Regions from separate parts of the Homo sapiens genome. Here region 1 is linked to region 2. A link means that fine-mapping ties the variant in region 2 to the expression of a gene that starts in the linked region. Tissue or cell type: whole blood. Region 2 holds a variant in brackets; the other region holds the start of a gene. All regions are shown on one strand. Distances are from middle to middle.

The links. PIP is the estimated chance that this variant, and not a neighbour inherited with it, causes the effect.
Region 1: TIMP1 starts here. The variant in region 2 is fine-mapped to the expression of TIMP1 in whole blood (TOPMed, PIP 0.93).

Annotation. Positions count from the first base shown.
Region 1 is chrX:47,579,857-47,585,004 of GRCh38, forward strand. TIMP1 (TIMP metallopeptidase inhibitor 1) reads left to right here and starts at 2,580. Exons shown (of 6, transcript NM_003254.3): 1 at 2,580-2,618; 2 at 3,552-3,680; 3 at 5,080-5,148. The coding sequence starts at 3,560. The region is part of intron 5 of SYN1 (synapsin I); the gene reads right to left. RefSeq lists a cis regulatory region at 1-110 and silencers at 2,228-2,377, 2,438-2,537.
Region 2 is chrX:47,615,870-47,621,017 of GRCh38, forward strand. It overlaps SYN1 (synapsin I), which reads right to left and starts at 3,988. Exons shown (of 13, transcript NM_006950.3): 1 at 3,483-3,988. The coding sequence starts at 3,859. RefSeq lists silencers at 4,001-4,295, 4,002-4,211. The variant G/C (reference allele first, on the strand shown) is at 1,991.

The DNA of each region.
Region 1 (5,148 bases), 36 kb before region 2:
ACCCTCCCCCCACCACCCCGCAGCAGAGCCATTTCTTCATTCTCATTCCTGGGTAGGTCACTCAGCCCTTTTGTGTCTAAGTTTCCTCATCTGTATAATGAGAACATGAGCTATATCTAACTCACAGGGATATTGTGAGAAATAAGTTAGTTATTTTGGGAAAAATGCTCTACATGGTATCGGGCATACAGTAAGCCTCGATCCTCAAGAAGTGTTGGGTACTCTTATTATTGGCTTAACATCTCTTCCTTAACTAACATTAATGAACAAAGAGGCAATCGGGATTGATTAAATGAGATAATGTCTGTAAAAAGACTTTAGAACAGTGCTTTTTTTTTTTTTTTTAAATAGAGACAGGGTTTCACCATGTTGCCCAGACTGGTCTTGAACTCCTGAGCTCAAGCGATCTGCCTGCCTCAGCCTCCCAAAGTGCTGGGATTACAGGTGTGAGCCACCATGCCCGGCCAAGTGCTTTCTTAAAAAATAGATTTAGGCTGGGTGCCGTAGCTCACGCATGTAATCGCAGCACTTTGGGAGGCTGAGGTGGGCGGATCACCCGAGGTCAGGAGTTTGAGACCAGCCTGGCCAACATGGTGAAACCCCGTCTCTACTAAAAATACAAAAATTAGCCAGGCGTGGTGGCGTGTGCCTGTAACCCCAGCTACTGAGGAGGCTGAGGCAGGAGAATTGCTTGAACCCAGGAGGTGGAGGTTGCAGTGAGCCAAGATCTTGCCATTGCACTCCAGCCTGGGAAACAAGATCGAAACTCTGTCTAAAAAAAAAAAAAAGATTTAGAAGGCCGGGTGTGGTGGCTCACGCCTGTAATCCCAACACTTTGGGAGGTCGAGGCAGGTGGATCACCTGAAGTCAGGAGTTCGAGATCTGACCAATATGGTGAAACCCCCGTCTCTACTAAAACTACAAAAATTAGCTGGGGGTGGTGGTGGTGTGGCTGTAATCCCAGCTACTCAGGAGGCTGAGACAGGAGAATCTCTTGAACCCCGGAGGCGGAGGTTGCAGTGAGCTGAGATCGCGCCACTGCACTCCAGCCTAGGTGACAGAGCAAGACTCTTGTCAAAAAAAAAAAATAGATTTAGAGGGTACAGCTGCAGTTTTGTGACATGGATATATTACATAGTGGTGAAGTCTGGGCTTTTAGTGTCCCCATCAACCAAATAGTGTACATTGTACCCATTAGGCAATTTCTCATCCCTCACATTCCTCCCACCCAGAATAGTGCTGGATACGCAGTAAGCACTCCATAAGGGCTGCTGGTAGTTTTTGTTGTGTTCTTGTTATTGGGCTATCATCCCTGAGTTAATCAAACTTAATTAGCAAGGGAGTATGGTGAGTGAATGAGATAATTTATACAAACACTTTAGCACATAGTACACAGAAAGTGCTCAATAAGTGGCTGCCATCATCACTACAATTATTATTATTGATCTATCCTCCTCGAATTAAGGATGTTAATCAGAACCCCAGGGAAGGTTCCTGCATTGTCAGAAAGCTGGTGGGCAAGGATTGCCCCACCCCACCCCCCACCAGGGGTACAGGTCCATGGGGAGGGGGCAGGGCAGGATGGGGTGGGGATTAGTTTTCTACTGACCCACTCACTTGCTTCTTTCACCATCATTCATGGCCACCCCCTTCCCAATGCTCATTCATTCACCCGCACCATTCCCTGCTTGCTAGGACGGTGCCACTCCTGAGTTACAACCCTGGTGCCAGGTAGCCTCTGTTTGAATCCCGGCCATGCCCTGTGATCTTAGGAAAATTCTACAGTTCCTCTACGCCCCATATTTCCTCATCCGTAAAACGGGAATAAGAACCGGTACCCATCTCAGAGATTTGTTGTGAGCTTTGAGTGAGATAAACTATGCTGAGTGCCTGGTATACAGTAGGTGCTGTATAAATGCCGGCTATTTGCCTGTGTTATTTGAGACCCTGGCTTTGGCTCCTGGCCACCTGAGTTCCAGTCTCAGTTCTGCCATGTATTGACTCTGTGATCCTGGGTAAGTCACTTAACCACTCCGTGCCTCAGTTTCCCCATTTTGTATTCCTCCCCTTTCACCTGCCTTATCTCCCTCCACTGCTGCTACTTAATTTGTTTCCTCTCTGCCACCCCTCACCAGCATGTCAGACATACAAAACAAGGGATTTTTGTGTGCTTGGCACACAGTAGATGCACAATAAATGTTGAAGGGCTGAACTAATTTGGGTTTGAGTCATAGGGAGCTTGGGGGATGTGGGTGATTGGATAGATTCTGGAGACTTTAGGGGACTGGGCCGGGGGAAATGCGGCCTCTAAGCTCTCCGCTGAGGCGGCTTGGAAGGAATAGTGACTGACGTGGAGGTGGGGGAGGTGGCTGGCCCGGGCGAGGCCCAGGGAGAGGGAGAGGAGGCGGGTGGGAGAGGAGGAGGGTGTATCTCCTTTCGTCGGCCCGCCCCTTGGCTTCTGCACTGATGGTGGGTGGATGAGTAATGCATCCAGGAAGCCTGGAGGCCTGTGGTTTCCGCACCCGCTGCCACCCCCGCCCCTAGCGTGGACATTTATCCTCTAGCGCTCAGGCCCTGCCGCCATCGCCGCAGATCCAGCGCCCAGAGAGACACCAGAGGTAAGCAGGGCCCGGGGTGGCCCAGCAGGGACCGGAGCTGGGCTGCAGCTTGGGTGCTGGCCACCAGGCCCGTGCACTCCCGTGCCAGATGCCTGTCTACTCAGCTTGGCCTGCGGGTACCAGGACCCTGGGCTAGTCTAGGGGGAAGAGGGTCGGAGGCTGGAACTGCTTTCCCAACCCCGAGGCTCCAAACTCCCTAGAACCCCTGACATCCGCCCCCAATTCCCCCAAACCCATGACCCCCTAATATCACAAATGCTTTCCAAATCCCCCCGCAAATTCCTTCATCCCGAAATTTCCCTCATCGCCCCCTAAATACCCACCGCTAACCCCTGCAGCTCCCTAAACTCCCCCAGCTCCCCAATCCCCAGTTCCCCAGCTCCCAAACTTCTTTTGCCCTCAAATTCCTCAAGTATCCCCATTGCCTTAAGCCCCCAAATTCCCCCAACCCCTTCAACCTCCAAACTCCCCCAGCTCCCTAAACCCCCAACCTCCTCCAAATTCCTCAACCTCCCTAAATTCCCCCAGCCTCTTATATCTCTTAATATACACAACCCCTAAACTCTGCCGTCTCCAAACTCCTCCAGCCCCCAATCCCAAATTCCTCACCCCCAAACTCCTCAACCTCCAGAATTCCCCAATCCCCTCATTCCTCAAACTTCCTCAGCCCCCTTCTCCCCCAAGTGCCACAACCCCATAACCCCGCAACTCACTCAGTCCCTCAATAATTTAAACTCTCCCAACTCTCTAAACCCTAAATTCCTCTGCGCTCCCCAATCCCCTTAAAATCCCTAAGCTTACCAACCCCTCAAGCCCAAATCCAGCCCCCTAATCCCCCCCATAGGCTGCCCCGGGGCAAGATGGGGTGGATGACCTGCCCAGGTCAGCAGATCAGCTGGGCCGGGGCCTGCCTGACATCCCCCTTCCCCACAGAACCCACCATGGCCCCCTTTGAGCCCCTGGCTTCTGGCATCCTGTTGTTGCTGTGGCTGATAGCCCCCAGCAGGGCCTGCACCTGTGTCCCACCCCACCCACAGACGGCCTTCTGCAATTCCGACCTCGGTGAGTCCTCACCCCACTCAGCCCACACACTCTGCCTTGGTTTCCCTTTCAGTCCAGTGGGGCTCACCATGGCACTTACCTCTAGAATGATTCCACTCGCCCCTGCACTTCCTCTGCTTTAGCCACACTGGCATCCTCACACTTCCTTGAGTACTCTGTGCCCAAGCCCACCACAGGATCTGCATGCTGGCTGCTCCCTCTGCCTGGTACACTTTCCCCCCAGGTATCCACATGGGTGGCTGCCTCAAACGTCACCTTCTCAGGATGGCCTTCCCTGGCCATCCTGTTTAAAATTTTAACCCCTGCCCCTTAGTACTCCTGATCTCCTGTTAAACAGAAAAATATTCAGTGATACTTGTTATAACACAGTAAGGAAGACCATATTCAGGACCATGGTGATGGGTATAGGAACCACTGCAATGGGATCTTGCAGTCGGTGGGAGAGATTGGGCTCAACACTGAATATAGCATGGGCCAGTGGGAATGTGTAGCTAAGGAGCAGTGTGAGGGTCTGTGGGTGGAAATTACTAAGAAGAAACATCAGGGGTAAGGGGGATTCTGGCTAAACCGACGTAACAGGATTCTTGCTGAAGGCAGGCCAAGGGGAATCAGACATCACCTGGGGGATGGTGGAAGATGAAGAACCCAGTCAGATAGCAAGGATGATCAGGTATTGAGGATGATCAGAGATTGAGGATGATCAGAGATTGAGGATGATCAGGTATTGAGGATGATCAGAGATTGAGGATGATCAGGTATTGAGGATGATCAGAGATTGAGGATGATCAGGTATTGAGGATGATCAGAGATTGAGGATGATCAGATATAGAATATAGGGGTTCTTGCTAAACTGACTTAGCAAGGCTCTCGGCTAAAACTGGATTTTACAAGGAAGTGCACAGATGGGCCTAGGAGGAGGTTCAGGAGCCTGAGTAAAGTTTGGTCAAGCAAAGAATCTTTGTCAGCCCCTTACCCAGGTCTGTAATTCCCCATTATACTTAATGTCTAACATTCCATATCCTTATTTTGTTTGTTCTTAGCCTGTCTCCTCCTGGCTAGAATGTGAACTCCACAAGGAAAGGGATTTCTGTGTTTTGTTCACTGTTGTGTCCCTAACACCCAGAACAATGTCTGGCACACAGTGGGCACTCCCAAATATTTGAGGAGTAAATGAACAAATCAATGTATGAAAATGGCTTAAGCAGTGCCCGGCAAAGAGAGACACTCAACATACAGATGAATCAATGAACAAATGTGTAAATCACTTTGTGTGCTGTCTGGCATCCAATAACCCCTATTTATGTATGCGCTTTGCTGGTATGATGATGATGATGATGATGATCTTATTTTTATTGGCTCATGCAGTCCATTTGACTCATATTTCCCTCCTCTCCTGCAGTCATCAGGGCCAAGTTCGTGGGGACACCAGAAGTCAACCAGACCACCTTATACCAGCGTTATGAGATCA
Region 2 (5,148 bases):
CGACAGAGCAAGACTCCGTCTCAAAAAAAAAAAAAGAAAGAAAAACACAGGACAAAATTACCCACAAAATGGGGGAGATGAGTCTCAACTTAGAGTTTTCAACTTTAAACCACAGAGGAATTGAGACCCAGGAAGGAATGAGGGTGGTGAGGTTTGGTGGAAAAGGCGTCAGACTGTATTTCGGTGTACATTCCATCACAGAGTTTGCACAACTCCTGCTTTATTTGGGGCTGAAATCCCTGAAGCTAGTGTGGTTCTGAGTGTCTGCAAGTTGGTAAAACAGGTCTCTGTTCCCCACACTGAGCCTGGCGTACATACATAGGCTCTGTCCCTTTGTCCACCCCACCCCACATATAGTAGACACTAAATAAATATTTGCTAGATTGCCTGGAAGAAAAGACTGGAGGGGATGCTGGGATAAAGGGGGGCTTCTGAGATGCAGAAGGGGAAGGGATGGATCTTTCACTGAATTCAGCAGGTGCTCAATAAATGTTTTCTGGACAAAGAAAAAATGGAAAACATTGAATTTGTGATTATGGAAAGGGGAAGGGACTTGTCAGTATTCCATAGATAATAAATGCTTGATGGAAAGAAGGAAGCAGACGCAAAGGACCTGCATGGAGGGCTGGAGTGGAGACCGGAAGTCTAAAGGAGGGTGATTACCTATATCCAGCAGAGGCCTCATTGATGTTTGCTGACTTCAATGGAGCAAACTTAACCAGGAAGATAACACGTTGGTGAGTGGACGTTGGTGAAGGAATTACAGCACGTGCTCCATAAATGCTTTACAGATTGATAGAGAAAAAAGCGGAGAAGCCTGCTGCAGGGATGATAATGTGGCTGTTTGAAAATAATACAGTAAGAGATTAATAAGTGTTTTCTGGACTAATTCGGGGAGAAAAAGGCAGCTGGGGAGATGGCTACTAAGTGGAGGAAGAGGCCTAGCTAGAATAAATGGAAAACAGTGCACATTGTGAGCTTTCAGGATTGTGTTGTGTAAAAGGCAGGATGGAGATTGTTGAAGGGGGAATTGGGACTACAAAAAGGGGAGAAGAGGCATTTAACGCAGGGTTCTCAGTAGTATACGATAAATGCTCATTAAATGATTGTGGGGTTGCATGGAGGAAAAGGTATAGCAAGGCCAGCTGGCAGGTGAGGATTTCAAGCACACCTGCATTTAGAAAAAAAAGAAGGAAGGGGAGCTGAAGAAGGGTTATTCCTAGTATATAATGGTGCATAATAAATGCCTCCCACACTTTCATGGAAAGGATGCAATAAATATCTGCAGAATGAATAAATTGCTCTGAATGGAGAGAAAGGCTACTCGGTAAAGGCTCCTGGGGGAGAGGTAATCTAACCAGTAAACAGCTGGTACTCAATACATTTAGGCTGAAGTAGACCCCTAGAGAGAGAGCTCTTGAGGCAGGGTCAGGGATTTCCAGAGACTTGGAAAGAGGAAGTTGAAAGTGACTTATACAGTAAGTGCTCAATAAGTGTTTACTTAAATAGTAAAACTATTAAGTAAATAGTAAATTTAGTAAATTTACTAAATTTATTTAGTAAATTAAGTCAATAGTAAAACTATTAAGTAAAAGTGTTTACTTAAGTAAGTGTTACTTAAATAGACTAAAAGCCCTTTGGGGGTATGAATTAAAGTTGGTAGAGGGAATCCTAGGGGTACTGAAGGGAGTGGGAAAGGGGTGATCATTATAAACTCAGCTCTGGATTTATCACAGGAAAGGACCTTGGGAGAGGCCTTGTGATTGGAACAGGCTCTCCTAGGGGTAAGGAAGAAGAATGTACTCCCCAAAACAACAGGTCCTGCATATGTGCTCACTGGATCTACTGTTAAGAAAACAATTCTGGGGAGGAGGTGTGAATATACAGAACACACAGAAGACACTCCATAAATGCTCAGGGGAGCCATTGGAAGAAAAGGTCTTTGGGGGAGGATGATTAAAATGGAGCACATGACAGACAAGGAATAAAT[G/C]CTCACTGGATCCATTAGAAGAAAAGGCCTTTGGGGAGTGGGGCTGGGGATGGACATATAGTCACCTGATCAAGGCTCACTGCATCCCTGAAGGAAAAGTCCTATGGGGAGGGGAAATGGGAGTGCAGAAAGTTGATCTATGGGAGCTCGATTCTTCATCCATAGGAGAAAAGGCTTTTGTGAAGAAGGCACACAATCAGGTACACAGCAGGTGCTCCATAAATACTCCAAGGAGTGATTAAAAGAAAAGGTCTTTGGAAAGAGTGACTGGAATGGTACACACAGCAAGTGCCAGATATCTGAGCACTGTATTAACTGGAGGCACAGGCCTTTATGGAGAGGTCTAAGGTTGGGTCATGCAGAAAGTGCTCAATACATGCAGACTGAAGCCACTGGAGGAAAGGGTATTGCAGAAAGGGTTTGAGGGTGGGGTATACAGCAGGCACCAGTCAATGCATGCTTGCTGAATACACTGGAGGAAAGAACTTTTAGAGAAGGCTCACACTGCAGGCAGTTGATAAATGCTAGATGGATCCACCAAAGGAAAGGTCTTTGAAGAAGTAGCTGGAGAACGGGGGATACAAGAGGCACTCAATAAATGTTTTCTAGATCCACTGTAGGGAAAGGTCTTTGAGGAGACGGTCTGAAGATGAGTCACACAAAGAAGGTTCAAAACTGCTCATGGAACTCACTGGAGGAAAATGATTTGTTTGAGAAGGGGTTTGGGGGTGCGGCACGTATCAGGCACTTAACAAATGCTTCCTAGATCCTTTGGAGAAAAGGCCCTCAGAGAGAGGGCTTGGAGTTGGGGCACAGAGAAGGCATCCAATCAAAACTCACAGGATCCATGAAAGGCAAAGCTTTTGGAGAGAAGCTGGGGTGGGATACACAGCAGGTACTCAATGTTTACTAAATAGTTTAAAAGGGCTTTAAGGACGGAGCTGGGGTGGGACACATAGCATAGACTGGACACATGCTCACAAGACCCATTAGAGAAGGCCTCAGGGCAAGGGTTGAGGAGAACAGGACAGTATCAGGCTCTCAAAGAATGCTCACAAACCTCATTGAAATCAAAGGCCTTGGGGAAGGGCTCTTGGATGAGGCATACTGCAGGTACTAGATAAGTGCTCACAAGATCCATTAGAGGACAAGGCCTATGGGGCAAGGGTTGGGGAGGGTAGGAAGGACACGTTCGGTTTTCGAAGGCTCATAGGATATATTGAAGCCAAAGACTTTTGGGGGAGGGGTAGTAGGGAACAGGTACGCAGCAGGTGCCTGATAATTGCTCCCTGGATCCATCAAGGTTTAAGGGGCGGAGGGGGGCGACAAGGGCGGGGCACAGAGGAAGCATCCAGCTTAATAATTTAAAGGAAAAAGATTTAGGTGAGAGGGCCAGGTGTCAGGCACACAAGCGGCGCTCGATAATTGCTCATTCGCAGAAGAACGATCTGGGGACCCAGGCCCACGGGAGACGTCCGCGGCAGTGGCTTACCAGTCGGTGTGCGGCTCGTCGATGACCAGCAGCACCCTGGAGGCGGCTCCCCCGCGGCCTGCGCCCCCAGAGCCGCCGCCCACCTGCTCGCTGAAGGTGGCAGCTGCCGCCGCCGTGGTCTGCTTGACCGCGTTGGACAGCGACGAGAAGAAGCCACCGCCCCCCGAGGACCCGGGGCTAGGGGCGGCCGGAGAGGCCGCTGGGGCGACCCCGGAGGACCTCTCGGCAGTGGCGGTCCCGGGACCGGGCGTGGCTCCGGGGCTGTGGGCACCGGGCGGCGGTGGGGGCGGCTGCGGACGCTGCAGGTCTGTCATGTACCCATTTGGCAGATTGGCCATAAAGTTGCTGTCCGACAGGCGGCGCCGCAGGTAGTTCATGGCTGCGACTTGGGGCAGGGGGTCCTAGGGGTGGTCTGGCCAGGAGCCGCGGGGGCGGACTGCGCGGTGCCCAGGAGCACAGCTGCGCTCTCAGGCACGACACGACTCCTCCGCTGCCCACCGCAGACTGAGGCAGCGCTGAGTCGCCGGCGCCGCAGCGCAGATGGTCGCGCCCGTGCCCCCCTATCTCGCGCCTCGCGTGGTGCGGTCCGGCTGGGCCGGCGGCGGCGCGGACGCGACCAAGGTGGCCGGGAAGGGGAGTTTGCGGGGGACCGGCGAGTGACGTCAGCGCGCCTTCAGTGCTGAGGCGGCGGTGGCGCGCGCCGCCAGGCGGGGGCGAAGGCACTGTCCGCGGTGCTGAAGCTGGCAGTGCGCACGCGCCTCGCCGCATCCTGTTTCCCCTCCCCCTCTCTGATAGGGGATGCGCAATTTGGGGAATGGGGGTTGGGTGCTTGTCCAGTGGGTCGGGGTCGGTCGTCAGGTAGGCACCCCCACCCCGCCTCATCCTGGTCCTAAAACCCACTTGCACTCATACGCAGGGCCCTCTGCAGATACTCGGTTTGTAGTGTTGATATTCAACTCAGAAGGCATTTTTTGGGGGGAGGGGGGCACTGGAAGCACACTCAGAGACACGAAAGTAGAGAAATAACCCCCTCACAGAGGGGGGTGAGGTCACACGCAGTGCCCGCGGGGAGATTAGTCTCCCACATCCACACAGGCTCAGCTAGGCAGAGAGCGGGGGCGTCACAGACAGCATCAGACAAGCGGAGGTGGACACTTGGGTGGTGTACACACCCTTGCCCAAGGTGGCAAGGGGGGCCTGGAGGCACACAAGAAATGACACACATATAAACACACACAAAAGTGAGGAAACATACGAGGGCATGTACAGACAGAACACACGCCAATCTAGGTATACATACAGACATACAAGTCCAGAGTAACACACATGGGCATGTTACATACATGCATGCATACACCCATACCCCCACACACACAGGTAACACACTGACACACAGAGACCCAGGGAAACTCATATGAGCATACACTTGCAGACAAAACACATTCCCACCGATGATCATGGAGAAACCTAGATCTGCAACACAGACATTCTCTGCAGCCCTAGCCCTGGTGCGTGTCCACCCCCACACCAGAACACACTTGGTATATACGCCACCATCCCTTTGCTCTGGACACCGCCAAAACTCACGATAACTACCTGATGTCATCAGTGCCCATGGCTGTCTCCCCCTGCACCCAAGAACTTTCCACAGAGGCAGGCCCATCCC